Linked DNA regions of Homo sapiens. The protein of the gene in region 3 interacts with the protein of the main gene of each other region in a pairwise test. Each region holds a gene or a part of one and is shown on either strand. Other genes may lie near its edges. The genes, in order: TCF7, LEF1 and MLLT11.

Region 1 (10,483 bases), on a different chromosome or scaffold from region 3:
ACATGGCCCCAAGTCTGCAACAGCCAAAGGCCTCAGCCTTTTTATTTAATTTGAGATGTAATTCACATATCATAAAATACACTGTTTTAAAGGTTATGTAATTCAGTGGCTTTTAGTATATTCATAAGATTGTGCAGCTGCCACCACGATCTAATTCCAGAACCTATTCATCACCCCAGAAAGTATCTCCATACCCATTAGCAGTCGCTCCCTGGGCCCCTCTTCCGTCAGCCCCTGGCAAGCACTAATCCTCTTTCTGTCTCTATGGATGTGTCTATTCTGGATATTTCATCAAAATGGCAAAAGGCTCGGCATCTGTCTAAGCTACAGACTCCAAGTAGAGCTCATAGAAGAAGCCACAGCTCAATGCAGCCTCATATCAATTTTGGATATGACAAGACTGACTACACTGAGTTTGAGCCTGAGTTTGCCTAAGGAATGATGCCTTACCCATCCCAGAATCCCCCCAAAGTACAGCCTAAGATCAGCTCACTATCTCCCCACTCACCACCTCCACCTACTTTCAGGTCTCAGAGCAGAGCAGAGAAAACCAAACCAAAGTCCAGGCAACACAGTGAGACCCATTGCTACAGAAACAAAAACAAACTTAGCCGGGCATTGTAGTGCATACCTGTAGTCCCAGCTACTCAGAAGGCTGAGGTGGGAGGATGGCTTGAGCCCAGGAGTTTGAGGCTGCAGTGAGCCAAGATCACACCACTGCACTCCAGCCTGGGCAACAGAGTGAGACCTTGTCTCTAAAAAAACACAAACACAAACACAAAACAAAACAAAAAAACCCTGGTTACTGGTCTAGGCCAGTAACTGCCTGCAAGCCTACATCAATCAGGTGCCTGACAGTGTTCATGGAATAAACTTTGACCTAATTTTTTCTTCCTCAAACAAGCTTAAAAGAAGCCAACTACCAAAAAGAAGGAACCTTTTTGGAAGAAAAAAAAAAATGTGTCCCGTGGCAGTTGGCTGTGGGGTGGTCATTCAGCCTATTGCTCCGGGCAAGGTTCGAGCTGGCCTGTTTTGAGGTCTCTAACACAGTAGCCACATGGGCATCCTACCCACACATGGGCAGAGCAGGTCCCTGGTATAGGCTTTCCCTGCTCTTGAGGGAGGTGCAATGACTGGCCTCAAGCCTCTCAGCATAAGTGTTGACCACATAGGTGCCCTCAGAGAGGGCCGGGCAAAGGGCAAGGGGGCCTGGATCTAAGGCCTGTGGCAGGGCCTGAGCAGCAAGCTGTCTGTCCTTTAAAGATGGGCTTGGGAAAGTGACCAGCTTTGGAAAAATCTTCCAAAGGCAGTTTTTCCTCAGGGCCCTTGCAAGGGGCTCCTGACCCAAGAAAAGAAGATCATTCCTGGTTCCAGACACATGAACCTTGAATCCAATAATAAATATGCTTCTAAAATGTGGGGGTGGATTCACTTTGCTTGGTAAAACCCAACCACATTTTCAATGCCCACACGTCTTCAGGTAATGCAAGCAAATGCTCTGACTTGCTATGTGTTTATAACTGGCAGGTTTGCTTAAAAGAGGTTCTCCTACATTCACATACAGCTTCCTCACTGAGTGTCACTCCAACTTACACCTCTGCCTCTGTCCTTTTCTGCAGCCCCACAGAGCAGCTGAGGCCAGGGCACAGAGAGCCAGTGTCACAGCCCGTCCTTTTCCTCCTCCTGTGTGGCCAGAAGCCAGACAGTGGAGACTGTGGCTGCGCGGGGAGGAGGGCAAGGGGATTTGTACCTATAGGAGCAGGTGCGATACATAGAAATGTATCTGCTGTAGCTTGAGAAAGACTGAAAGGTGAAAAATAAATGACCCAGGCCAGTGGTGGTGTGCCTCCTCCACTGTCCTGTTAGAGCCTACTCTTGACCCATGTGGCCCAAAGGACACCAAATGGTCCCATCACCCATACCCTGACAGCAGAACGAAGCCCTCCCTGCTCCAGATACTCTCCCAGCACTTGCCCACACCATGAGATGACCTCCGAAAGGAAGCCTTTTCCCTGTGCTGCTGTGGAGCCCCGGGAGGCTGGAGTAGAGCCTTGGGCCTAGGCCTTTTGTCTAATCATGGTTCCACGGTGACCCCAGCCCCTATGCAAGTGGCACACCTGTTGGAAGTTTGGCACTGGTGGGTTATGTCAACCTAGTCCCAAATCTAAGGGTTTATTTACATCTTGTAGGGATCCAAAACGCATCTTTGTTAAGCATGGGCTCACACAGGGTGAGTTCTCTGGATGTAGTCACTACATCAGCGGGGGAATGCTGGGGGGCACACCCCCCATCTCACAGACTTGGAAGGAAGTGAACCACCTCATATACCAAGCCACCCCAGAGCAGAAAGTCGGATACAGAGACTACTCGAAAAACATACTCATTTTACAGATAAGGGCCCAAAGGGCAAGGAGCTCATTTCTAGAGCTAGCCATAGAATAGGCTTTCCAGCCTAGGCTTCTGGAAAGAAGCCTATATGTCTTCTCATTCCCACTGGCTTGGCATGCAGCAGCTCTCAGAACCACCCTCTTCACTCCTGGTCTGAAATAGCCTAGCACTTAACTCTCCTCCCTCTGGTGACCCCACTGTAGCCATGCGAGCCTCCAGCCTGCCAGCCCCACCTGCACTGGGCTTACATTCACACCCAACACTCACTTACCACAGTCCTCCAAACCTTCCACGTACCTTCACCCCAACTTGGACCAACTGAGGAGAGTGTGAAACACGAATAGGAATTTCTTTAAAAGCGCAGCTGTACTGCTCCAAAACACTCAGAATAGGCTCTTCACACTTTAGGTCATCTGTACCAATGGGCATGGTTTGTAAAGATCATGAAATCTTTTCAAAGCACTGGGACTTAAAAATATTTAATTCACGAATTAATTAAACTGGTCCCTTCTCAACATCACTGATTTGTAGCACCTTTGCCAACCCTTCCTGGTATGTCTGAGACCAAGCCAGTTTCCTAAGAACCCACTTTCCACACATGGTGTTCAGGGTCCTTCTTTGGCAACGGTACACTCACGCCCGTCAGGACACAGCCGACCGAACACAGCACGTTTCTCCTGCACAACCAGGGGACCTGAACAGATCAGCTTTCCTGCCCATTCCTCCAAGCGCCAAGGAGGCTCAGGGTTTCCTGGGCTAGTTAGAAAGTTAATTGCAAAGCTCTGAGCTCAGATCAGAGCAGCGAGGAGCAAGGGTGGTCTCGGCTCAAAAGTTCTCTAAGAAGACCCCACCCTGGCATCACCCAGCACCAGGACAGAGCCTGCACCTGCTTATGAGCAAGCTGGGAAGACAAAAGCCAAGAGGCAGAGGGCAGGGGGGTGCCCCAGGGCGGCCCCTCCTTCCTTCAGCAAAGTTCTCCTTTTGGTTCAGATCCCACCGGGTGTGTATGGGAGAAAAGACCAGCACAGGAGTCTCGTCTATTTTGTTCCAGGCAGAAGTCTCTTGCCGGTGCCTCACCTACCTGGTCAAGGAGGCTGCAAGCACAGGGCGGCACTGGCTGCGGGGTCCACTTACCAGCGGGGGCTGCGGCTGGGGGTGCTGCCCTGCTCCCGAGGGGGGTGGGTAATGCATGAGCAGATTGAAGGCGGAGTAGACGGTCTCTTTGTACATGCCGCTGGTGCACTCCGGGGCCTTCAGGCCTGGAAAAACCACAGCTGGGTCAGACACACCAGCCCTGGCAGCGGCTGGGACTGAAGGCTGTCTGCTCTTGAGAGAAAAAGAATTGCCAAGGGGTCCCCTGCAAGTTCCTGACTTGGGAAGGAACGGGCTGGGAGTATCGGCAGTGCCAAGTTTTAGGGGAAGGACCTGGAGGGCAGGCCTCCCCGAGGTGGCCCCTACTTGACCTCCCACCCCCCGCCCTCCAACCAAGAAACCTTGGCCAATTCTGTCTCCTGAAGGCGGCGGATTAGTCAGTCACCTGGGCAGGAGGGGAGGCGGGGATGGCGGGGGTCTGTTTACTCCTATAAAGGTCAGGGCACCGGAAGTGACTCGACCCGGCGGCGCCCGGGAAGCCCGCCCCCCACTCTCCACCCCTGGGTTCTGCCGCCTCCTGAGCTGCGGTGGGGGAGGCACCCGGCTCCCCGCGGTCCTTGGCGTCCCCGTCCCACCGAGGCCAGGGCCTGAGCGCGACGAAGGGAAGCCGGGCCGGGCAGAAACTCACCGTCCTCCAGGGGCTCTGGAAGTTTGTCCGGGAAGAGTCTCTGCGCAGCGTGTTCCCGCCCGAGAGCCTGGAGGGAGAACCGGAGGGGAGTGAGGGGCGGTGGGACCGCGGGGGTCGGGGCCGACGCCGGGGCAGGGACGCTCTGCGCGCTGGAGACCCCGAGGGCCGCGCGCAACTGGGGCGGCGCGGCGCGGCGACCGCGGGGGAGGAGCCGGCGCCGGCGGGGGCTCACCTCGGCCTCGCCGCGGGCCCCGGCGCCGGCCCCCGGGACCCCCGGGATCCCTGCGCCGCCGGCCGCGCCCTCGGACTCGTTCACGAGCGACGACTTGAGCTCGGCCAGGTCGCGCTCGGGACCGGCGGCGCTGTCGCGGCTCTTGTCGTCCTGCTCCTCGCCTTCATCCTGGAAGGCCAGCAGCTCGTCCGGCGCGCCGAGGTCGTCGCCGCCGCCCGCGCCGCCCCCGCCGGAGTCCAGCTGCGGCATGGTGCGCTCCGCCCGCCGGGGCGCGGGGCGCTGGGCGCCGGGAGTGCGGGGCGCGGAGCCGGCCCGGGGGGCGGCGAGCCCGGAGTCCGAACCTCCGAGCTCGGATCGCGGCGGGCGGAGCGCGGGCTGACTCCGCCTGGGCGGGCTGCAGGCGCGGGCTAGGGCGCGGGGCAGAGCGGCTCCGCGAGCTGGCGGGTCGGAACATCAAAGGCGCCGCCGGCCGAGTGCCGGGGGCGGGGCGGGCACTGGGGGCGGGCCGGGCCGGGGGCGGGACACAGGTCCGCCCCGCCTCTCCTCTCCCGGGAGAGGCCGGGACGCGCCCACTCGGCATAGCCTTAAAGGGCTCGCTCTTCCGGAGCGCACCCTGAGAGAGACGTCGGACAAGCCTGGGAATGATCACCCTTCTCCCGAAACGCAGAGACTCTAACGGGAACTCCTGACCCCGCTTACTCACCTACAACCAGATATTCCCCCTGCTTTCTGCGCCCAGGTTTCTCCTCCGGCTGTGGAGGGCGGGGGTCCCCTAGGCCCTTGGGACTTGGGCGTGGCTTACCATCGCAGCCGTGGTGTGAACTGTATCGTGCCCAGGCTCCAATGCGCCCTGTGCTTTGAACTGGGGGCTTCCTAGGGCTTGAGGCTGCTTGAGGCTGTGCTCGTACCCCAGGGAACCGGCAGCGTTGGAACTCCGCGGCGCTGTTGCGGCTCTTGCCCCATCCTCCATCCCTGTGCCAATCAGGGACTTCCTTCTAGGCCGCCTGCATACAGTGCGAACATAAGTATACCCCCCTTCGCACATTTATTGAGCTCCTGTTGCGTGCAGAGCTTATACATCACACATCTGTGACGGGCCCCTCAGTCAGGCGACGGCTCCGAGCCGCGAACACAGCCAAGAGCACCGGACCTCAGCCGATCCTCCAAGTCCCAGCCCCTATGACTCTCCCAACTCGGTTCCGTGACTAGAACCTGCAGCCCGGAGACTCGGAACTTTGGGCAGCCACGTGGGCGCGGGATTCCGACATGGGTCGCTCGTCCACAGCAACTCAACCCTAGAAGTCGCATTTAGGGAGCCCATGACTCTGAAGTTGACCCTGGCCTGACTAACCCTCTAACCCTCGCTCGATCCAGGCTGAAACATCTAGATTTGCGGAGCGCGGGAAAGTGCCTGGATTCCAGCGCATCTGTATGGCACCCGGGTCTGCGTCCACGCGGGCCTCCACGGCGCGCTTGGCCTGGCTCAGCCCCTGCATCTACAAAAGACGCCGGTCCTTTGGATCGCGATGCAGTCAACAGCAGCTCCCCTAGCAGGTTTCTGTGCTGGGTTCACTGTAGACGCTCACGCCTCTTCTGAGAGCAGTTGGGATAGAGGGTATTTGGGGGAGGGCCGGGTATTGGACGCCTCTCCCTCTGAGGGCCCCACAGGACCCCTGGCAGCGGTGCAAAGCCGGGCCGGAAGACAGCCGTGCCTCCCTCCGGGTCCAGGCCCAGCGTGGCTGGCTGTGGATCAAAGAGCTAGGCCATGCTTCCCTGTGTTCAGATCCTATCTGTGCCCGCCCAGCCGGGTGTCTCGGACACCAGCCCCCACACCCCCCTCCCCCGCCACCTCCGGGCTAGGGTGCCCACTTTTCCTCCTTTCCCCAGGCTGGGGCTGGGGGGTGGCATGGGCACGAGTGCTCAGCTTGGTGATGGAGATGAGGGGGACCCTGCCCATTAGGTCTCCCCAGCCTCTTCCCAGGGTGGGCTTGCCGCTTAGTCTCGCCTCATCTGCTCCGGATTGGCGGGGAAGGGGGGGCTCGGCCCTGCCCGGAGGGGAGAGGTACAGGGACGGGAGTTCAGAGCCTCCGCCACCTCAACTCCTGAGGTTATAGGTAGGGTCTGGCATAGGGTGAGCCTCCTCTGGGACAGCTGAAAGGGAATCCGGATCTGCCCAACCCAATGGCTTTAGGGGTCCTCATGTGTTTGTAGGGAACCCTGGTTCAGCAGGAACGTCCTCCAGAATAGCTGTCCCCAGACCCATGAGTTCCACCGACACAGATCAGTGGAGGCTGAAGTGTTCTCCAGTCCTTGGAGAAAGGAGAAAAGTCACAACAACAGTGAGGTTCTTTTTGTTTTGTTTTGTTTTCTCAATAAGGTTAAAACTTTCCAGCTTCGTATTAGCCTTTAATCAAGGATTATGCCCTTACTGCTTTATTGGTGTGAAAACATCCTTTCTTTACTAAAATGGTGGTGGGACAAGTGTTTTTTTTCATGTCTTTATTTGGTGAAAGAACATAAGGAACATTTTTTTCCCCATCTGTTAACTCCCCCACCCTCAAGTTTCTTTGGACATTTTATAGTCTGGGAACAACTGTCCTATGGGGTCATAGCTCCAACTCCCCACCCTGCTGGCTGGAACCAGAGGAGAGGGTGGGTGAGTAGGGAGAGTGGGACTGTGAGGAGGCGTGAGGGAGAGAAGGGCTGAGTCACAGGCATCCACAGCCACACTGAAATCAGTCTGAAGGCTTGCTAAGGGATCATCTACTGTGTACCTAGCCCTGGCTTGGGCTGTGGAGAGGGAAGGGCTAGAGGTGTCTGCCTTCCAGGAGCCATTGGCTGCTTTGAGAAGCTGAAGAGTTATTAGAGCCGATTTAGGTGCTAGAGTAGTCTATACAGGTAATGGACAGAAAGAGCTCAGATATGGTGAGATCAATGTGGACTAGAGTAGTCAGGGTGGCTTCCTGAAGGAGGTAGATTTCATGTGGGCCTGGATGGCTTAGGAGGGTTTGGAAAGCTGGAAAGGAACAAGAGCTCTGATTTGTTCCCCAGAAGTTGGTGCGGCCCCACAGGAGTCCCTGGTCTAGTCAGCACTGATTCCTTCACCATCGTCTACACAACGACCAACCTCATATACTGAGTGATTACTATGTGCCAGGCATCCTGTCAAGAGCTTCACACACATTATCTCATTTAATCATCACACCAACCCTGTGACATAGGGACTCGTATCCCCATTTGACTAATGAGGAAACTGAAGCTCAGAGAGATGAAGTCACCTAAGTTCTCACAGCTTGAAAATGAAGGTGTCAGAATTTGAAACCCAGGCAGTCTGACTCCTGAGCCCACATCCTAACTATCACACTCTAGTGTTCCATTATAAAATTCCAGAGGGAGTCCTTATTTGCCTTGTGGTCTTGGCAGACAAATGCTGACAAATAAGCTGTCACTAATATGGAGCCCTGACTTTCTGGGTGGCTCATGTTGCATGAAGGGGGCCATCAACAGGATTAGGGAATCATCTTGGTGGTCTGTATAGGGGGCCCAAGACCTTTGCTGGCAGAGAGGGCCTAGAATCTCTCCCTTGAACCAGACAGATCTCAGTGTGTACCATCTCTCTGCTGAGCCCACCCGAGGCCACCTGTTCTGGGAATTGGCTCAGATCACATACACAGATGATAGACACTGGGGTTCTTCCACAGGGTAGTGAGTGCAATCTGCTGTGGTTGCCCCCCTGGAGGTGACCGGGGAGTTTCAGGACCAGGACCAGCTGCAAGGAGGCCCCAGAGTCTTCTGGATTCATCCAGACCAGGCCAGGGCTGGTGATTTAATAAGGCTTCATCTTCACGCAAATGAGCTTGCACTAGTCAGATGCTGGAAACAGGACTAAGTCAGGACTCCCAAGGCTTGAGGGTTGTTGGAGCAGATGAGCTCCAGCTTTAGATTTGGGCAGTCTTAAGTTTCCATCTCTGCCGTGCCACTTACTAGCTGTGGGACCCCAGGCAGATTGCTGACCCTCTCTGAGCCTCAGTCTCCCCATAGGTTAAATGGATGTCATACGCAGGCCTGCCCTGCTCTGTTGGAGTGCAGTCGAGATGAACCACTGTACCCTAGTGAAGAGCTTAGAACAGCAGCCTGGTGCATTCCAAGTGTCTAATGGGTGCTCTTGAACGAGATATTTTTCGGAAGTTGTTAGGCTAATTGGCTCTTCATGTAACGTCATGTAAATCATCTGAATGTTCTCATGGCCTGAGCCCACTTAATCATGGCTAGAGCTGAAAATATACATTTCCTTTCCTTTTCTTTCAAGCTCCTTTAACATGAAAGGCCCACGTGAACTCTGACCTTTTCTGACAGGGAGACCCTTGAAATGTGGCATTTCCAGAAAACGTCTCAAAGGAGCCCCAGATGGATTTAGTAAATTACAGCAAGGAGAGGTTGTGAGCGGCGTCTCTTCCTGCTCACCAGCCCGCCTGGCATCCTGTTGGGGCTTGCCCAAAGCCGCCGGGAGGCTGGGCTGCTGGCTCTCGGCAGGAGCACTTCCCATGGAGCATCCTCTCAGGGCAAAACCCGGTTACAGGTCCTAGAGGTAGACTGTGGTTTGTTACTAGAAACACGGTTTGCTTTCTGGAAACTCTGTGTAGTTTCACTGTTTGTTGGGGCGTGTGTGTCCATGTGTGTGCATGTAGGTGGTTGTGACCTACAGAAAGGCAAGCACACACAATTGCTGGGATGCTGCTACTCTGCATCAGGTACCAGGCAGCTGCCCTTAAAATGAAGCAAGGGGGCTTTGGGGTCAGTTCTTTCTTCATAAGGAAGGAAGGACTCTTCTGTGGGTTCTCCCCTCCTGCTCCATCCCTCGGACTTCATACAATAACCAAGAATTGTTATTAAAATAAAGACTTAATAACAAAATTGGCAGTTCATATTTCCTGATGAAATCCTAAGGAAACTTGGCCAAATTGGCTTGAGAGGTGATGGGCAAATTATGAGAAGAGCTGCCCCAGAGCTTCACAGGGCTTGTTAGGACTATTCCCATGGGTTATTTTTCCCACATTGTGCCAGCCATTGTTCCTGATGAATGGGTTTGGGGTTCCCTCACCAGAAGGAAACATTAGGCTTGAATTTCCCCAGGAAGGAGTCTAGAGTCAGAGACACCAAGGTGGCGACAGCGAAGGCAAACGTGGAGTGGCCACTGTGTGCCAGGTCCTAGGCTGCCGGGTGTACCAGTTGTCCAAGGGGTCGGGAGTGCCAGCCTGTGTCCTAGTCCCTGACCCAACACTGGCTTGCCGAGTGAAGTCAAGTCAGTCCTCTGCCTTCTTTGGGCCCAAATTCACCTGGAAGCTGCAGATGCCTCTAAGTTCTTTTTTTTTTTTTTTTTTTTTTGAGATGGAGCCTTGCTTTTATTGCCTAGGCTGGAGGGCAGTGGCACGATCTCGGCTCACTGCAACCTCTGCCTCCCAGGTTCAAGCAATTCTCCTACCTCAGCCTACCCAGTAGCTGGGATTACAGGCACCTGCCACCACGCTCGGCTAATTTTTGTATTTTTAGTAGAGATGGGGTTTCACCATGTTGGCCATGCTGGTCTCGAACTCCTGACCTCAGCTGATTCAACCACCTTGGCCTCCCAAAGTGCTGGGATTACAAGCGTGAGCCACCGCACCTGGCCAGGTGTCTCTAAGTTCTAAGGATGCCATGAAGAGCTTATGGCCTTGAGACCAGAGGTGAGAGACAAGCGGCGTCACAAATGCAGCAGAAGGTGGAGCACACCAAGGCCTGGTGTTCATGTGGGGGTCACCTGCAGCTTCACAGAGGAATACGCCTGCACTAAATCCTATGTGGCCTGGGGAGACAGCCTCAGACACACTGAGAGAGGAATGTCTTATTGAGAAAGAACTATTCAATATCGCTTTTTAAGACAGGGCTATACAGGGCTTTGTTGCTTATCCCTAGGGCCTGGCACAGAACTGGCAACCTGCGGTGCTCAGAAGTTTTTGGATGGATGGCTGAATGGAAGGATGGATCGATCATCCATAGCAGTGATCACTTAGAATCCAGGAAGTAGTTAGCAGGCCCCGTACCTG
Region 2 (9,900 bases), on a different chromosome or scaffold from region 3:
CCGAAGAGGAAGGCGATTTAGCTGACATCAAGTCTTCCTTGGTGAACGAGTCTGAAATCATCCCGGCCAGCAACGGACACGAGGTGAGCGGGCCGCTGCCCCAGTTCCGAGAGGCGTGGCGGGTCCCTGGGAAACTCAGAGAGGGAGGAAGGGAACGAAGGCGCCCGGCCGCCCGGCTGAGGGTCCCGAGTAGATCCCTCGTTTGTTTTGGGGTGTGTGCGTAGCTGGGCCCCCGGTCCGCAGTGTGTGTGTGTGTGTGTGTGTGTGTGTGTGTGTGTGTGTGTGTAGGATGGGAGGTAGAGGGGCAGGGTAACTTATTCCAAATGGATCAGTTTAGGGGGTTCGGTGGCTGAACGGTTGGTTCGCGGGCAGGAACCCACAATGTTTCGCCTTCGGTCTTTTTGTTGGGCTGAGGGGTGCCGTGCTTTAAAGCGAGTAGGGCTGAATAACGCTACTGATAAATTCTTCCGTGGGACGGAAAACAAAGTGCACACGCTATCTCTTGGTAGATGTCTCTGCAAAAGTGCGTTAAACCACCAAAGGCTTAGGTGGAGACGAGCAGAGCCACAGGCGGGAGGAAGGGGAGGCGGGCGTGGGCTGGGGCAGGCGGGGCCGTCCCTACCACCGGTGAGCCGGGCCGCGGGGAGCAGGCCGGCCGATGGGGCGCGCACCCGGGCTGCGGGGGCGGTGCGGGGTTCAGTCCCTGCGGCCCCAGCGCCTGGGCTAGCAGCTGGGAGCTGTGGGTGCGCCGAGCCGACCCACCGCAAGGGTACACCCTGGCTGTACCGCCCCCAACTCTAGTTTTCTCCAACCGCCATCACTTGGAAACAAACCCACAACTTTTATTTGGGGTTTGGGACCGGATCAGGCCTTAAATCTACGCAGAAGAAAGGCGGAGAAGCAGCGGAAGCCGGGCACTAGTCCTGCAGGGTGGAAGGCGCTTTATCGGGTCTTCTGGCCCGCTGCGGGCGATAGAGCTGGTAACCTGAGTAGAGTAAATAGAGACACGTGGGTGCTGGCTAGAGAAAGCGCGGAGCAGGGCCGCGCTGGAGGGCTGTTTGAAGCCTAGTCCAGAGCTGGTCTAGGGGGCGGATGGACCCTGATACCCGACACTCCACTGGTCACCCTTGTTCCACAACTGGGAAACCCTCTGGAGGAAATCCGGTAGAAAAGTCCTGACACCCGAATGATTTAACCAACGCCTTTTCCCTCCAAAGAAACTTGGAGGATATACCTTTTTTTCCTTAAATGGCATCTTTCTACCCCCAAAAAGAAAGTGTGTGGTTTTGAGGGCGGGGACATTTTGGGTTTTAAACAGCGCGTTTAAGAACACCTCAGATCTGCCTTCTCTATCCCAATGGCAGAGGTGAGTACGAATTTTGAAAGGCTGGGGGCCTGCGTTCAGAGAACAGAATGGTGTTCTTTACCCGTTGAATCCAGTTTGAGCGGGCTGGGGGCGGGGGTAGGGTGCACCTAACCCCGCGTAAAAGATTTGTGACTACTGTGTGCTGGGAAAAGGAGGTCAAAGGGAGGACACACGTCCAGAGAACCGAATAACATCCAAAACACAGGCTTTTTGCCAAACTCTCCTATTTGTAGAGCAGCCTCTCTTTCTACCCATTTTGCTAGTCCTGCCTTAGTCCATAAATAATTTTGCCACCCACTTCATATTCTCCACAATTTTCTGGTCCGGGTGAAGGACACTGCGTTCGAATCCGAGAGCACTCGGGTGTTAAGTGGGCATGAGGAGGCCTGAGGGTGAAGGAGTAATACCACTGATTTGCACGTGTTTGAGGCTGTCTGGGTGGATGGTGATTACCAAAACTGATATCAACTGGGCTACCTTTTAGATGTCTATAACCTGACTCTCTAATTTTCCTCCCTTTAACCACAGAATCGTTCTACTTTTGTAAGCCTGCACTCAGCCAGCCATAGTAGGTTATAAGCTCGAGTGGAGCTTCTGCTGTAACTGCGCTCAGGGCAGTTGCCTTAAGACCGCATCTGAGTGGTTGGCTTGTTTATGTTTAAATGCCATTTTCAGTTGCAAAATGATATTTCAGCCTTCTTTTAATCAGATCTGATTGAAGTGAACAGTGGTTGAAGAGGCTATCGAAACCATCAACCCCATTAACTCCTACTCCTGTAATATTAGGCATCCAAGGAGCCTTGATATGGTTTAATAAACAGCAGTCAGAACAGCATGTGGATCATTCCCAAATTTAACTATATTTTTATTGGTTTTGTTATTATTTATACGTTTTTGGTCCCGGGTGGATAATAATCACTCAAAAATACATGTTGACAAGAAAAGGATTATGCAGTACTAAACACTAGCGTATGTCTCTCAGAGTATAAAACAGAGTTGCCCCTAAACCTCTTCCTTTGAATTACCAGCGCACACACATTTGTACCATTATTGTCACAAACTCTAAGGTGATTTTCTTTCTTTTGGGTGTGGGGATTCATGATGTTAGGTGGCCAGACAAGCACAAACCTCTCAGGAGCCCTACCACGACAAGGCCAGAGAACACCCCGATGACGGTAAGACACCCATTCTACTTCTTCTGACTTTAGCAGATAAGGGGTGCAATTTGTATAAATAGGTGTGTTTTGTTACTTTTGAGTTCAAGAAACTGGGACTAGGTCAGACTATGCCCACTATTTTAATGGTAAAGAAAACGCAGGAAACTTATGGCTTACCTCTAATATATATTACATAATTTAAAAACTGTTTTTGAATGAGTTAGGGACCCTTGGATTTCAGGTGGGTTCCAGATTCTTTGGGAAGAGGGAATGTCTACAATGAGTTTTTCTCTTCCTCATCTTACCTTAAATCCTAATTAGCTTAGATCTTTAGTATTTTTAATATATTATTAAGAAGAACGACAGTATATATCGATTTATTTTCCAACCAGAATAGTTTTGAGTGGATTTTCACTTGCAAAATTGCTGTTTCTTGTTCCTTATTACAGTGAAAAGGCCGGCAGTAAATGAGCAGAGCAGAATCTAACTTGTAAAAATATAAAACTTATAATTAGGAATGTGCATATCAGAAATGATACCCTTTCTCCCTATTTCTGATTCTTGCTAAAAACTTTAAAATTACATACATATGTATTTAGACTTAAGGAGAATTCTTTGTGACTTTAAAAGAATCAAGTAACCTTAGGGATTTCTTGTCAGCCTATCTGTTTTCCATTAATTACTTAACAATTGGCCTAACTGAAATGAAGTGTTTTTACATACAATATGTCAACCAGGAGCAGGGAAGAGAATTATATATTAGGCTTCTTCCTCAGCTACAAGATAGTTACACAGATTAACAAGAAGAAATACACATATCGAACAGAAATTTTTTGGCAAAATGATCTAAGTGTAGCACATAAAATTAAGCCTCCCAGAGTTAATCCTTTATAAATTTAGATAGTTGCCTATATACTAGATAACAACTCTTTCAGTAGAATCTAGAAATTTTTCTAGAAATCTGCAAGCACAGGTAGAATCTTTGAGTTTGTCTACAAGGCAAAACATAATTTCAAGTGTATAAATCTCTGTGTTTGTGTGTAGCTAGATGGCCTAATATATTTATATTACATTTTTAAAGTTGTGTGTGTTCTGTATATTTTAGTCCAGTTTGTTAGTATTAGAACAAATTAAGTTAGATGGATAACACTTATTTTTGTAAAAACATCAGTCAGTAGTGGAAGAACTGTTTGAACTACATGTTTTTAAAACATCTGGTTTGCTGCTAAGCTATTTAAGAGAATAAATACTGTCAATCTAAAATAGAGCATAATAATCCAGTTACAGTATTTTGTAAACAAATCTTTTATGTAGGGTCTGATTTATCTTAGAACTATTAGATTTTCAGATGAAAAATACAGTAATATAAAAGGGAAGTCAGTGCATCATTGATTGTTCTTTGGATCTTCCCAGGAAAGCATCCAGATGGAGGCCTCTACAACAAGGGACCCTCCTACTCGAGTTATTCCGGGTACATAATGATGCCAAATATGAATAACGACCCATACATGTCAAATGGATCTCTTTCTCCACCCATCCCGAGAACAGTAAGTAACATGCTGATGTTGCAAATTATGTTCAGAAGTGCAAATTGATTTGTATTTTGGCAGAATGTTTATTTTTCCAAACTCATTGGTAATGCTTTCATTATATATAACTAGTCGTTGCTAAATAAGAGCTGTTATGAGGAATGGCCACCTTAAAACAGTGCTACCTTTGATGTCTTGCCTTTGAAATTTTAGCTTTTGGCTTATTGATTAAAATAAATATGTAACAGATCATAAGTTATAAAATCAAGTGAAGTTACATCAACAAATCCCTGATTTTATGAGTATTGTGCATTCTATGCTGATGAGAGGAAAAAATTGATTTACTTTTTCAGCTAAGTAAGGACTGTATAGCTTTTAATGCCCACAAGCTTTCTAGAATCAGAGCTACTTTAGCTCATTTGGAGCTGAATGTTTGTTATGTTACTTTGGCTTTTCAAATGGTGTCTTGTTTTATTGTATCGGCCAATGTTTCCTTAGGATCGGTTTGGCGGGGATGAGTTATTTTTGCTTTATTGTCAATTGTTGAGAAAGCATCACTCAAAGATAACCCTAATGAAAGTTGTTCCTTTTTTTTTTAATCTTGTGGTTTAGTTAACTTTTAAAATTCTAAAAATGCAGTGGTATTATAACTGCATTATGCAAATGCATAACATTATAAAGAATTTCAGGTTTATTTGATGATATTTCTCTTAGGAAGTGGAAACCTCATTTAAGTGAGAAAATACCTAAATGGTAACTTGTGTAGTATGTAGATGTAAAATGTGCTGGTGATGGAGTTCTCTCTTAGAATTAGCCCACCAGCGTTGGTGACGGACTTTTTACTGACCCATCAATATATTTACCTTCTCTCCAGCCCCACTCTCCCTTTATCACCTAACCCCCAATGAAAAACACATGTCTATGGGTCTCGGGGATTAGGGTTCCAGTCTCACTGACAGCCCTGGAGGTCAAATCTCAGATTGTAAAATGGAACCTATAGTGTTTGACTTACTTGCCCAGTGTTTCTACCAACTGAAAAAAATCAGTCACAAACATCTGGGAAGAGTAACGTTGTTAATACCTTAGTGAACAAAATCTGGGAGTGAGAAGATTCACTAGCAGAGAATAGTGGCTCAAAATCAACAGTTATCAACAAGAGTATTTGTGGTTATCATTACACATAATCTTCAGTTGTTGAAATGATACTTATATCAAATATGATCACTTTGAGCACTGCAATTTAGATGTTATTGTAATTATTTTCCAATAAATTGCTAAAGGATATTTGATCTCTCAGCTAAGGAATAAGCTTTTTCTAATTTTTATATAGTAGTTAAAGTGGAGATCTTGGGGTTCTAATCTTGAGGGAGATCTTGTGATGGTTGCTGTAAGAAATAGGTATTTCATATTTTATTTTAAGGCTTTTCAAGTATTTAATGATAAAGATGTCTGTGTGATGAGGATGAATCTCCTACTTAAAAAGTAATTTAAAAAAGCAAAAATAGTTTAATATTTAGAGGCCCCTCAAATAAATGCTTGAGTTTTAAAAGTTGTAGGAGACTTTAAATTTTTGAACAAAACATACAAATATATAGATATCTCTTTAATATTTGGGCAGGTTTTTTTGCTGTTTTTGGAGGGGGTGGAGAAGGGAAGGAGAATATGTTTTAGATAAGGAATATTTGAAGATTCCTGTTAAATCATTTTCAGAATAACAAATAATCTTTCCAAATCAAAGTAGTGTTGGTGACAATAGAAAATAGCCACAAAACAGCCTTACGTTTTTCAGCTGTGAGTATACAGCATTTGTGGAATTTATTTCTTAAAAAGATCAGCTACTTCTCCTTTCAAAATGGTAATTTTAAAAAATCAATATAATGAAAATTTATTGGTATTTATAAGCAATCCCTAAGAATATTGAAAATTAAGCTGATCTTCCTCTTTATGCCAGCATTCTGCCTTGTGTTTCCACAGTCTTTTCTCCCAATCTACCAGTATACTAGTCATTTTGAAATTTTGATAGAAAATATCTTTTGATAGAAGGTATTTATTGTTAGTGTATGTATTAAAATTTTGAGGTCAGTGAATCAAACAGTCATTCATTGTTTAGGAAAGATTTGTGGCCAGAATAAATGTTGGTCTGGGTAAAGTGTAGGAAAGAGGTGTGGTCAGGAAACAGTTACCTTACCCTGTTATCTGTTGCTTTGCTTTATTCTGTTAAATATTAGGATGTATTTATTTTAGGCATGTTTTCTTGAGATATTCTGCAGTTTGCACAATTCCAGAAGCTTTTCAGCTGTAACCACAAGACTATGTAAATTTTTTTTTTAGGGTCCAACCGAAGTGAGTTACAATCTTTGGTTTTTAATACCTAACAGCTGTTTTTAATGTGTCGGAGATCAAAAACACTAACCGGAAGACAGCCTCTCTTCTTCACCCCTAACCACACTTCTGCCTTCTTGCTCTTTAACTCTGTCCTTAGCAGGGCTGAGTGTTTGTGTCACTAACATCCACAGTGATAGATTTTCATCTAGGGTGTCAGGAGCATGGTGACCATTTGTGTTTGGGCTTAGGATGGGAGCATCCCCTTGGCATCCTGCTTCTTGAATTTCCATTACAAACAATTGCTTGTTTACTGCATCTGCTTCCCAAAAGTGTTAGGACTGGAAAAACACCTGGGGTGGGGGAGGGACCTGACCACTCCTTCCCTAAACAGTCTTCTGTTTGTATCTAACTGCAGACAATCCAGAGGATACCAGCTATGGCCAACTGGCATGCAGAGAAATGTTTCTGCTGGAATCTAATTATAAAAAGTGCATATGCTTTTGCTTATTTTTTAGACAAATGCTACTGTGTGTATCCTGGAACAGATTTTACCTATGACCAATATACAGTATTACCTGTTCAGGAGCACCACTTTCACCTACTCAGCTTTTTTTCTTCTCAAGGGGAATTTTAATTGGCAAATTACATCCTTCTAGAACTGGAATCCTTAGGGGTGTGAATGTGTCTATACCAGAAATCTTATGAATGGGTCTCTCACAGAATTTTAAATAAGAATTCTTAGTTCAGATAAATTGGGTCTAAGAAGAAAGCACCTATCATGACATATTTGGTGTCAGCGTGAGTTCTTAGGGCATAGTAAACTTTGGCTTGAGTTGGTCTTCTTCACAGAGAGTGAAGAGAAGATGCAGAAGCCTGTTAAATATTTTAGAGCCAGGACCCTGGAGAGTTTATTAAAAGCATACTCCCAAACCTTTCGTTCTCTGAACTTTATTTATGAAAATCCCTGTAGGCCAATGGTAAAGTATTAAAAGAAAAAAATAGTTCTTTACATCCCTAGTTTGGCTCTGGCAGTTGTGTGCCTGAACACCGTGTGAATGGTGAGCTTGGCCAGCTTTAATGTAGTGAAAGTTCCCACTGGCCTAATGCACTGTGGTTATTCATCTTAGGCGTCAATCTTCCATTTGTCCCGCATGCAACCCAAATGTTTAACACCTTAGAAAAGAAACATCTCATTTCTCTTCAGATGCTTGGGGAGGGAAAAGCAACACAGTGCAGGAAGCTGCAGCAAACGTTGCAGCTCAGTCACATCAAACCACAATAACACCTGGTCAGTGTAGCGCTGCAAACTTCATTGTTTTTGGTTCTTTGTGATCTTTCTAAGAGTCAATTTTTAGGTGGGAAAGGAAAGATATGGGTGTTCTCATTTCAGCTATCTTTTAAAATGTTTATTTTTTTAAAGTAGAAATTGCTATGAAAATGTTCCATGAGTTCTTTTCTAATTACCTTGTATAACTTAGTTCTGTTGTGACTTTTACCTTAAGGGAATCAACACTTTGGTTTCTATTAAACAGAATTATACCTATTATAACTTTGTCTTACCTACCCTGCATATTTGTACTTGCTTATAAACAGCTAAAATCTGATTTTGTCATTGTTCACATCTGGAATTAAGGAACTAAGTTGGACTTGTCTAATCAGTAAGCTTCTGAATGTACCACTGTACGTGACATTGTTGGATACCTTTGAAAATAATCACATAAATAATATTCAAGGATAGATGGAGACTAAGGCTTATATCTCATGCAAGATTTTTAAGGTAGAGTATCTTTTCACTTTATTGCAAGAAGCTATTGAATTTGACTTAACCTATAAATAATTTTCACTTTTCTATTTTAAGTTGTGCACTTTTTGAAGCTAAACACATTGAGTTTTCCCCTTCAAGTGGAGAATAAGTTTTAGAAAGTGTATTATTCTAACTCAAATGTATATATAGATGTCAGGAGAATGTGTGGGAAAATTCCTCAGAGCCCCCAAAGTTTCCTGTTTGATCCCTCCTTCATGGCATTGCTACAATTTGGGACAGGATCATAGTCAGAATAATTGGAAGCGCTTGCCATTCCCCCATCAAATACCTTATGGCCAGTTTGCTTATTTAAGTGTGCCAGGAAGCCATACTACATGTAACCCTTGCAGAGCTAATATTGCATTTACATGCCTGGTTCTTACTCAGATAGTTTTTTTGAAATGACCCTAGTAGTTTCTTCTTCATTGATAAAGACATGAGAACAACCCAAAAGATAGTCTTAAAAAAAAAAGACCACACACTAAAAAAAAGACCATTGAGCCAATCCGCAAAAATCTTGCTTTTGAAGTATTTTTTCCACTCCCATACAGGTCTTAGATTTGCTCTCATCAACCTCATTATTTTGATCGAGTCTTCCCTGTGGTCCGAGACCCTTATGTGATTTAACAGAGCAGAGGTAGGGTCTCACAAATGGGACTCTCTGGACTTGAATTTGTAGACTCACAAGCACTTGCTATAATATCAATTTTGTAGCGGATGAGTTTTTTTTTTTTAATGTTCTTTAGACAGAACCATTTGGGTTTATGTGATTGAATTTTTTTTTGAGCAATCAAAACACTTCATTTTTGACTCCTTTTGTTCCTCATTTATGTATCATAGACATGACTGGAATTTTATAAAGCTGATTTCCTTTTGATTTTGGTAAAAGACTTGGAATTTAAAGAGAAAACATGCCAGCACTGTCTGTAGCAAGCAGAAAAACATATATGTTTTATTCCCAGGTAAAAGTAGAGCTCAGCATTATGTAGGTGCTGCTGTCCTGGGACTAAAGGTTGCGCGCTCTCTCTCTCTCTCTCTTTTTTTAAGGGAATGTTCATTTAAAACTTGTCCTCTTTGAAGCTGTTGCTTAAGTGTTTGTGCTGAGCTGAGCCAATCTGTAGGAAGCTAATACTGTAGTAATCAAGACACTTAGTACTCTTCTGTGCTATCCTTACATGTCCTTACTTATTTAGAAAAGGCAGCCATTGGATTTTATTCAGATAATTTAAAAATTATACTTTAGGTTCATGATTACTTTTTAAATATTATGATCTTGAATTACCTGCCTAGGAACTGTGGACTCTGCTATAAACTCTTTTAGGGATATAAATCATCCAGTATCTCAGATAGAGAAGATGAAAGCCTTAAAATATCCTAGAGAACAACAACAAAGACTGGGGGTGGAGGTGGGGGGAGTTGGGAGTTAATCTGTACCAAAGTGAAGAGCGGGGAGTTGAGCAGAGGACTGGACAGGGAGCAGGAGGCATTGCTAACTCAGAAATTCTGATAATCTAGCTGGGACTATTTGCAGACTGTTAGCAGAGGCTGTGTAGAGGATTATAAAGTCTCTGTAAAAGAGTGCATTTGTATAATACCCACTGTAGCTAAACCTGTAAACCTGCTGCAATTATCCACTTGTTATCTCTAGATCACTTACAAAGCTCACTGAGCGATGGTACTCACATGCCTTCAATCTGTATAGGGAAAATTGCAAGGGCA
Region 3 (9,548 bases):
TCCCTCTCTATCATAAACCCTACAGTTCCTCACACCAATGTCTGTCTGAAAGATGGGAACCAATTTGGGGCAGGGGGCCAAACTCAGCCTCGGCGACAGGCCTCGGCCCCGGCTCCGCGCCGCCCCCTAGTGGTCACCTCCGCGGCCTGGGCTTCCCTTGGTCCAGCTCCCCAGCCCCAGGTCTTACACCCACCCCCTTCTTCACCTCCTTCCAGTCCCCTCCCCTTCCTCCCGACAGCATCCCCTTCCTCCCCGTCCCCCTCCCGCCGCTGCCCCCGCTTCAGTGACGGGGAGCCGCGAGGTCTGCACCCAGAAGTCCGAGGCTGGGCTGGGAAGCGGTGTGACTTCTCACGGCACTTTCCTTTCCAGCCCTGACGCCCCCCGGAGTCCACACATCTCTTCTTTCCTCCTCACCTCCTCGTCCGGGACGCTGCCGGCCACGCTTCCACGGAGCCCGCCAGTTTAGTCCCGTTTCCTTCTCTAGTTAAGACTCCCTGTCAAGGACGGTTACTTTTTGCCCTTTTCATGTGTGCATGTTTTGGGGGCCTTTAACCCCCCCTCGTGGAGAAACAGAGGCAACAAAATGGCGGACCCGGAAATGAAGGCGCCGCGAGTAAGATTTCTGGCGGAGGAATCTGTGAAGGGAAAATGATCAGAAAACTCATGCTCCCATTCTAACAGAAAGATGATGCACCCCCGAGGTTCATCGCCTTTCTGCTGAGGCACTTCTGAGGTGGAAAAGTGCGTCACCGAGGCATGCTAGGCAGGACTATTTAACGGGGCGGAGGACTGCTGGTTACGTATCTTGCGCGTCTGAATAGTTCCAGCAGGGGACGGATCCTAGGTCTGGTGTTGGCGCCAAGAACCTGGCGAACTGCTGAGGGAGACTCGGAGCGTGCGTCAGTCATGCAGATTGCGTCTTAACTCTTGGCTGCTTCTTCGGGGTCCGGGGCGGCCAGGTTTAGTTTGACAGGAAAGCCTCGTTTCCTTATCCCAACCTCGGCTGCAGCTGTTTGGGACGTTCCTGGCTTTGTGCATTGGGTTCTGGTGCCTGATGGACACATTTTTCCAGTTACAGGCCGAATGTAAGGACCCCAGAGCCAAGCTGTCAGTGAGAACAGTGAAACAAATAACTGAGTCATTTCTTTTCTTTCTTTCTTTTTTTTTTTTGAGACGGAGTCTCGCTCTGTCGCCCAGGCTGGAGTGCAGTGGCTCGATCTCGGCTCGCTGCATGCTCCGTCTCCCGGGCTCACGCCATTCTCCTGCCTCAGCCTCCGGAGTAGCTGGGACTGCAGGCGCCCGCCACCACGCCCGGAGATTTTTTTGTATTTTTAGTGGAGACGGGGTTTCACCGTGTTAGCTAGGATGGTCTCGATCTCCTGACATCGTGATCCACCCGCCTCGGCCTCCCAAAGTGCTGGGATTACAGGCGTGACCCACCGCGCGCGGCCTTTTTTTTTTGAGACGGAGTCTCGCTTCGTCCGTCGCCCAGGCTGAAGTGCAGTGGCGTGACCTCGGTTCGCTGCAACCTCTGCCTCCCGGGTTCAAGTGATTGTCCTGCCTCAGCCTCCCCAGCAGCTGGGATTACAGGCGTCCGCCACCACGCTGGGCTAATTTTTGTATTTTTAGTAGAGATGGGGTTTTATTTTACCATGTTGGCCAGGCTGGTCTCGAACTCCTGACCTCAAGTGATTGGCCCGCCTCGGCCTCCCGAAGTGCTGGGATTACAGGCGTGAGCCACCGCGCCCGGCCTGAGTCATTTCTTTTTGGAGGCCTGCAAGAGGATGGAGCATGAGTTTGCAAATCCATTTAGTCACTTTATTTACCAAACAGTTGATCCCTGTCTCCACCCACCAATTGCCATGGCTGAAGGACTCTGAAGGGGCCCTTCAAAACTCAGTAAAAATAGAAAAGGACGCACTACTTATCCTTCCTGGCCCCATTCTTCGTTAGACTGGGACCGTCTTTAGATGTGGGCTTTTCATGGCCTAGAGGGAGGATTTGTCTTTTTTTCTCCCACCTGGGGACTTCTCTAGATCATCCTTATTTAGGGTATAGTGTCATCCTTATTTATAGTACACTGCCCAATTCTGTCCTATCCATATTGGTATTTACAGTTTCTCTTTTGAGAGTTGGAGTCTTGTCTCATTCCCGTTTACATTCTGTTTGGCTCAGTGCTTTCCTATAGCAGGCACACAAAAACCAGAAGTTAAGCAGATAACATATTTGAGTGAATTCGTTTATCTTCTTAGGCACCTAGGAGAATTATTACCTGAAATATAATGTTGGTAGTCAGTGGGCAAGCAGAAGAGTGGTTGTACCTGTCTCCCTAACTACTTTTCTAATTTTAAGTTGATTTTGCCCTTTCATTATCTGTTCAATGCGAAGTTCACCATCTAATGTCTAAATGCTACTCAAATCATTCTTCCTCTAAGTTGAATATTATTATAGAAAGATAAAATGAGGCCGGGCTCAGTGGCTCACGCCTGTAATCTCAGCACTTTGAGAGGCTAAGGCGGGCAGATCACCTGAGGTCAGGAGTTAGAGACCAGCCTGGCCAACATGGTGAAACCCCGTCTCTATGAAAAATACAAAAATTAACCAGGCCTGGTGGCAGGCGCCTGTAATCCCAGCTACCTGGGAGCCTGAGGTGGGAGGATCCCTTGACCCTGGTGGGTGGAGGTTGCAGTGAGCGGTGATCCCCGCCACTGCACTCCAGCCTGGGTGACAGAGTGGGACCCTGTCTCAAAAATAAAAAAGAAAAAAAAGATGTATAAGCTAAGTGTGAAAGCAAGGCTAATTTCTCAGATTTCTGTGGCTTTTCTTGTGAAGAGAGAAAATTAGACTCCAGTCCTGGGATTGAATGTCTTTATTAAATAAACGAGTAAATGGTAGCACAAATCACCATCAATATTTTTGGAAGGATTGGGGACAAGATGTCGAGTCAGAATATAATTGTTCATTTCAGGGTCTCAATGTAGCTGAAGAACTGTGCCCACTGATCAGTATTACGTATTGCAAATGCAGGAGGTAAGGCTAAAATAGGACTTATGCCGTTCAGAAGATTGAATTGAAACCTTAAAAACTATCATAATAGTAGGAATGCATGTTAAGATTTGATAACTTTCTTTAGCTAGAGTTTTCAACCCACAGTTAGGAGCAAAGTTGTAAAGTGAGTAGGTGTGAAGAAGGGACACTCTTTTGAGAAAAGAAATTAGCTACTTCTAAAATGATTCAATTATTTTCCCTATTTTCATTTTCCATAATATTTCCTCCTGTTTTATACCTCTAACTACCCTCCTGATTTCTCTGAGGAAAAAAAAGAATATAAGAGCAGGATCAAAAAAAAGCAAGAGACTTATCACTTTAGCCTTTTAGAAATACTGTTTCGTAGCAGATAACCTCAAATTAAAACTTCCGAGGTTTTCATCACCCCTTGAAGAAATATTTGTGTTTACTGCCCTGGAGCAGGAAATTAGGAAGGTTTAAGGAATCTCTGAAGCTGATTATAATAGAGTCAAAAATCAGTCTTCCATTTTGCACTACTATACTACTCTCAGGTGTCCCCAGTCAGGCCTAGTTTCTGGAGTTAATATTTGGGGGGGAAAGGAGGAATCCCTGTGACCCAGTACTCCATTGCTTGAACCATTTACTTTGTGACTTGAGGGCTTTTGAGAGAAATGGAGTAGACAGATAGATAAATAAATACATAGAACTCAACTCTGGCAGATTCATCAGCACCACCAACACAGTAGGGAGAGAACAAGATTAAAATGGGAAAGGAGTGGAAAGGAAGGGGCTTGAGAGGGAAGACAATGAGGGCAAGGTGATGGGAGAGAGAAGTCTTGGCCTTAGAGCAAGTCCAGTTCGAAGGAGTGGATGCTGGCAATGGGAGCTCTCCAGAAGTTGAAGGTGCTGTACTCAAGGAGGCCATCACCTTCAGGGTTTTTCTCCTGGTCTGCTGCAGTTGCTTGCCCGATCATTTTGCCAACGCTGCTGTCTTTGACCTTGTAGGTGGCTGTATCTGACAGACCCAGGCCTTCCAGCTCCGACAGATCCAGTTCTGGGATGGGCATCCTCCAGAAAAGAAAGGAACTGTACTGGCTACTCACAGGGTCCCTCATAGCTTCCTAGAAAGAAACCACTTGTCAGTCTTCATGCTACAGCAACTTCTTTGTGGCCCATGGCCTTTCCTTGCTTAGATACTCCACATACTGGTAAAAAGGAATTTCTTTTTTTTTTTTTTTTCTATTAAAGAAAGAAAATTGTATATCCTCCAATCCCACCAGTAAAAAGGAATTTGGGGAGGAAAAAAAAGAAACTCACCATCCCCAATTGCCTCTGGAGAGAATCCAAGTTCCCTTGGACAAGCTTCAGAAACCCTTTATTATGAATTTCTACTTTTTTTTTTTTTTTCTCTCAATGAGACGGAGTCTTGCTCTGTCGCCCAGGCTGGAGTGCAGTGGCACGATCTTGGCTCACTGCAAGCTCCACCTCCTGGGCTCACACCATTCTCCTGCCTCAGCCTCCCGAGTATCTGGGACTACAGGTGCCCACCACCACGCCCGGCCAATGTTTTGTATTTTTTAGTAGAGACGGGGTTTCACCATGTTAGCCAGGATGGTCTCGATCTCCTGACCTCGTGATCTGCCTGCTTCGGCCTCCCAAAGTGCTGGGATTACAGGTGTGAGCCACCGCGCCCGGCCGAATTTCTACTATTTTCTAAACTTCCCATCTTGGAATGACTTATTTACCATCTATTGCATCAAATTGATCTTGGGTCTGATTTTCAAGGCCTTCCAAAATCTAGCCCATTCTTCCCAGCAGTGGTATATCCTCTGTTACAGTTATGCTCATTCCTGTCTTGCTTAACTCTCTCCATTCTCCACCTTAAAATACTTTCCGCATTTCAGCCAGGTGTGGTGGCTCATGCCTGTGATCTCAGAAGTTTGGGAGGCAGAGTGGGTGGATCACTTGAGGCCAGGAGTTTGAGACCAGCCTGTCCAACATGGGGAAACCCTGCCTCTACTAAAAATACAAAATGTTAGCCAGGCATGGTGGTTTGTGCCTGTGGTCCCAGCTACTAGGGAGGCTGAGGCACGAGAATTGCTGGAATCCAGCAGGGTGAGGTTGCAGTGAGCCTTCCAACCTGGGCAACAGAGCAAGATTCTGTCTTAAAAAAAAGACTTTCCACATTTCAGGACTCCATTCAAGAGCTCAGTGGCTCACACCTGTATTCCCAGCACTTTGGGAGGCTAAGGCAGGCGGATGACTTGAGACTAGGAGTTCCAGACCTGCCTGGGCAACATGGCAAAACTCCGTCTACAAAAAATACAAAAAATTAGCTGGGCCTGGTGGTGCACGCCTGTAGTCCCAGCTACTTGGGAGGCTGAGTGGGAGAATCACTTGAGCCTAGGAAGCAGAGGTTCCAGTGGGCTGAGATTGTGCCGCTGCACTCCAGCCTGGGGAATAGAGTGAGACCCTGTCTCAAAAAACAAAAAGACAAAACAAAACAAACAAAAAACTCCAAGTCTATAGAGGAACCCCCGTTCCCCTAGCCCAAACTCCTATTATACTTAAAAATACTTGACTTCCTCCTGACTTTGGTTTAATAGCTCATGGTATGTGTGAAAAGACCTTCCGTGACTTTTCTGCTTTCTATTTTCCTTCTTGCCTTCTAAATCCTACTATAAACTCACCTCTTGCAGATGACTTCCTTAAACTTTTACTCAGCTTCATCTACTCTATTTCCTCCAGCATCTCCCCCAACACCCTGTAGAGTTTTACCTAACTCCATCAGTTTGGGATTACAGATCACTGTTAATGTATTTTATGTATAGGGATGGCCTTATTGCCTTCTGAATGGGGAAAAGCAAAGGGCAGTAGAGAGCAAGCTAGAATCTGAGAAAAACAAAAAGCTCTTTGACAAATTGACCCCTTGTCTTAAAACCAGAGTATGAATAAAAAACTGCTCAAATAGTCCCTGAGGGTTTGGCAGAGCTATCTTGCAATTTAAAAAGCTAAAGCAAATGTTATGAAATATTAACTCAGAAGGCCTAAAACCTCTATGTCATTGACCCAGAGACATGTACACAGGGTACCAAATACATTCAAGAAACACATGCATGCAAGCATATGTGGCATTAAAATCAAGTCAAGAACATAAAATAAGACTACACAGAAAATTGAAGTTAAAGTGCTATTCACTAATGTAAATAGTAATGAAATTTTTGATTTAATATAGTATGGATTTAATTATCAAATACTCCAAATTTTGCAAAAGACCCCTTTTTTGGCTAGCTTCCCCTTCCCCTCCACAAATGCTCTCCACCCCTACTTCATCTATCTTTACATCTATCATTATCTTAAACGGTATCATTTACTTAAAGGGTTGACAGTGCCTTGTACCACAATATATATTCAATAAATGCTTCCCATTATCCTTCATTTTAAATTATCCAGGTATTTTAGGCAAAGGCAATATCTAATTATCACTCTGTTCTTAGAGATACATGATTAGCAAATATGTAGATTAGAAAGATACACTCTCTCGGAGCCACACAGACACGCCCAAACATCCTTTGTCCAGACCCTTTGTGGGCATCCAAGGCCTACTCAACAGGGCCTTGCTGTGTCATGCTGCCACCATGGGGAAAGGGGGAGGACAAGGTGGTGGTAGAGGGGAGCAGAAGCTCTCTGGCATCTCACCATGCGTGCCTCAGTCAGAGCTTGGATTTTCCTATTAGCATTCCCTCACCAGTTCCACTGAATTGCAAATAATCATTCTTTTCCAGAATCTGTCCCCATACCTAGGAGTTTCCCCAAGGGTAAAGACCAATCTACTTTCTCTGTACACAAGTGGTGGGCTTTGTACACAAAGCCATTCAAGGCTGCTGATTAACTTTCCCTCACTATTTAATTAATACCTTGCCATTCCCTTATATTAGCCCACAGGTAAGCCTTAACAATCCATTTCTCTCTAGCCTACCTCTCCTTCAGAACAAAACCTAGGTGCTAAAAGAACTTTCCTAGCCAGGTGCAGTGGCTTACGCCTATAATCCCAGCACTTTGGGAGGCCGAGGCAGGCAGATCAGGAGGTGAGGAGTTCAAGACCAGCCCAACCAACATGGTGAAATCCTGTCTCTATTAAAAATACAAAATTAGCCAGGCGAGGTGGCGCATGCCTGTAATCCCAGTTATTTGGGAGGCTGAGGCAGGAAAATTGCTTGAACCTGGGAGGTGGAGGTTGCAGTGAGCCGAGATCTCGCCATTGCACTCCAGCCTGGGCAACAAGAGCGAAACTCCATCTCAAAAAAAGTAATAATAAATAAATAAATAAATAACTTTCCTATGCTGTAACAGGGATCTCTTTTCTCTGATCCCAGTGCTCGAGTATACTGATGATAATGAGAGCAAATGGATTGGAAATCCATTTGGATTTAAAGTAAAGTTCAGATTGGAAGAAGGTATTTTAACAGAATCAGATACTCTTCCATGCGTTAATGGATCTATCACTTTCTCTACTCATTCTACCCAAGCCCTGCCTGATATTTTAGGACTATTAGAGCTGCCTACAGCCTCCACCCTGCTACTTACTAGCCAAGGGTCAAGAAGCATTAGTTGTGGTCGGGCGTGGTGGCTTACGCCTGTAATCCCAGCACTTTGGGAGGCCGAGGCGGGTGGATCACGAGGTCAGGAGATCGAGACCATCCTGGCTAACACGGTGAAACCCCGTCTCTACTAAAAGTACAAATATTAAGCCGGGCGCGGTGGTGGGCGCCTGTAGTCCCAGCTACTTGGGAGGCTGAGGCAGGAGAATGGCGCGAACCTGGGAGGCGGAGCTTGCGGTGAGCTGAGATAGCGCCACTGCACTCCAGCCTGGGCGAAAGAGCAAGACTCCGTCTCAATAATAATAATAATAAATAAATAAAAATTAAAAAAAGAAGCATTAGTTGAAATGTTCCCAAAGGAGCAGAAAGAACATTCTATCACCTCCAAAAACAGAACCCCAAGTTTCAAAAGGCCTTTCTCCAACACACCCTATTGGGTCTCACCAGGCCAGAGACTCCTAAATAATGGCCTTAAATAGGTTCCAAAATGCTCCAGTATAATGTGAAATGACTGTACTAAGGCAGAAAAAGAAAGTGTTAATCTAGAACACAGTGATGTGTGAGAGTGTGGGGGCTTCAGGAATGGTGAGTGGGTAGGCTAGGATGTTTTTAATGTTGAAAGTGAATTCTGAGTTGTTCTTTTTCTTAGTTTAAGTTCCAAAATAAACCCTGGGAACTGAGCATTACTCAGCAGAGAAGCTGCTTAGAAGGAGGGTGATGCCGGGATTGCAGCAGGGTCGGGGAGCATGTTGGAAAGGTGAGGTCATCATCCTATGATACTCAACTCTGATAATCTCCATAGTACTTTGCAGAGACGTGTGCAGAAAGAGAGCTACAAAAAATGGTTGTATCCATTAACCAACCACCCACTGCTTAAATCTGGGACTATAGAGATTCTAAGAAGCATACCTAGGAGTCAATACTGTTATGGACTTGTGGCTACAGGGATTCTTACTGTTACCAGTTATTTTCACAGCTAGCTGGGTTCTTTTCTCTATCCTACCTGACAAGTCTTCTCCAGAATGAGCTTAGTATAATGCAGGCCACATTATAGGCTCTTTAAAAAATAGAATCATGGGGCCAGGCGCGGTGGCACACGCCTGTAATCTCAGCACTTTGGGAGGCCGAGGCAGGTGGATCACAAGGTCAGGAATTCGAGACCAGCCTGGCCAAGATAGTGAAACCCCGTCTTTACTAAAAATACAAAAATTAGCCAGGTGTGGTGGCAGGCGCCTATAATCCCAGCTACTCGGGAGGCTGAGGCAGGAGAATCGCTTGAACTGGGGAGGTGGAGGTTGCAGTGAGCCAAGATTGCACCACTGCACTCCAGCCTGGGCAACAGAGCGAGACTCCATCTTAAAAAAAAAAAAAAAATAGAATCATGGGGGGAAAAAATCATAGAATTTTAAAACTAGAAGACATCTTAGAAATTAATGACTTGGGAAGACTTCCAGCCAGTTTGTATAGAATCCAGATCTCATAATTCCCAATCTGATCCCTTTTTGTGTTGTACATGGATAGTTGCCAACAGCTTTATATAACCCTATACCAGTATTCCCAAAACTTAAAAGAATTTTTAGTTGCTGAAGAATAGATTTTCCGTGGTTTAGGTGATTGTTCCTGTAATTGTGATCTGAATGGGGAAAAGCAAAGGGCAGTAGAGCAAGCTAGAATCTGAGAAAAAAAAAAAAGCTCTTCGACAAACTGACTCCTTTTCTTACAACCAGAGTATGTATAAAAAACTGCTCAAACAGTCCCTGAGTGTTTGGTAGAGCTATCTTGCAATTTAAAAAGCTAAAGCAAATTTTATGAAATATTAACTCAAAAGGCCTAAAATCTCTATGTCATTGACCCAGAGACATGTACACAGGGTACCAAATACATTCAAGAAAGACATGCATGCAAACATACGTGGCATTAAAATCAAGTCAAGAACAT

Evidence for each region.
Region 1: the proteins of MLLT11 (region 3) and TCF7 interact in a two-hybrid assay, tested with the Homo sapiens proteins (one study listed by IntAct).
Region 2: the proteins of MLLT11 (region 3) and LEF1 interact in a two-hybrid assay, tested with the Homo sapiens proteins (one study listed by IntAct).

What each region holds. Positions count from the first base shown.
Region 1 is NC_000005.10:134,109,073-134,119,555, reverse strand, and holds the start of TCF7 (transcription factor 7), read right to left. Parts: upstream 4,876-10,483; 5' UTR 4,650-4,875; coding exon 4,401-4,649; intron 4,236-4,400; coding exon 4,169-4,235; intron 3,944-4,168; exon of another isoform or gene 3,648-3,943; coding exon 3,523-3,647; coding exon of another isoform or gene 3,470-3,522; intron 1-3,469. UniProt on the Homo sapiens protein: Transcriptional activator involved in T-cell lymphocyte differentiation. Necessary for the survival of CD4(+) CD8(+) immature thymocytes. Isoforms lacking the N-terminal CTNNB1 binding domain cannot fulfill this role.
Region 2 is NC_000004.12:108,157,738-108,167,637, reverse strand, and holds part of LEF1 (lymphoid enhancer-binding factor 1), read left to right. Parts: coding exon 1-83; exon of another isoform or gene 84-113; intron 114-698; exon of another isoform or gene 699-980; intron 981-1,336; exon of another isoform or gene 1,337-1,357; coding exon of another isoform or gene 1,358-1,366; intron 1,367-2,474; coding exon 2,475-2,541; intron 2,542-3,936; coding exon 3,937-4,070; intron 4,071-9,900. UniProt on the Homo sapiens protein: Transcription factor that binds DNA in a sequence-specific manner. Participates in the Wnt signaling pathway. Activates transcription of target genes in the presence of CTNNB1 and EP300.
Region 3 is NC_000001.11:151,061,801-151,071,348, reverse strand, and holds the end of MLLT11 (protein AF1q), read right to left. Parts: intron 4,131-9,548; 5' UTR 4,125-4,130; coding exon 3,852-4,124; 3' UTR 1,805-3,851; downstream 1-1,804. UniProt on the Homo sapiens protein: Cofactor for the transcription factor TCF7. Involved in regulation of lymphoid development by driving multipotent hematopoietic progenitor cells towards a T cell fate.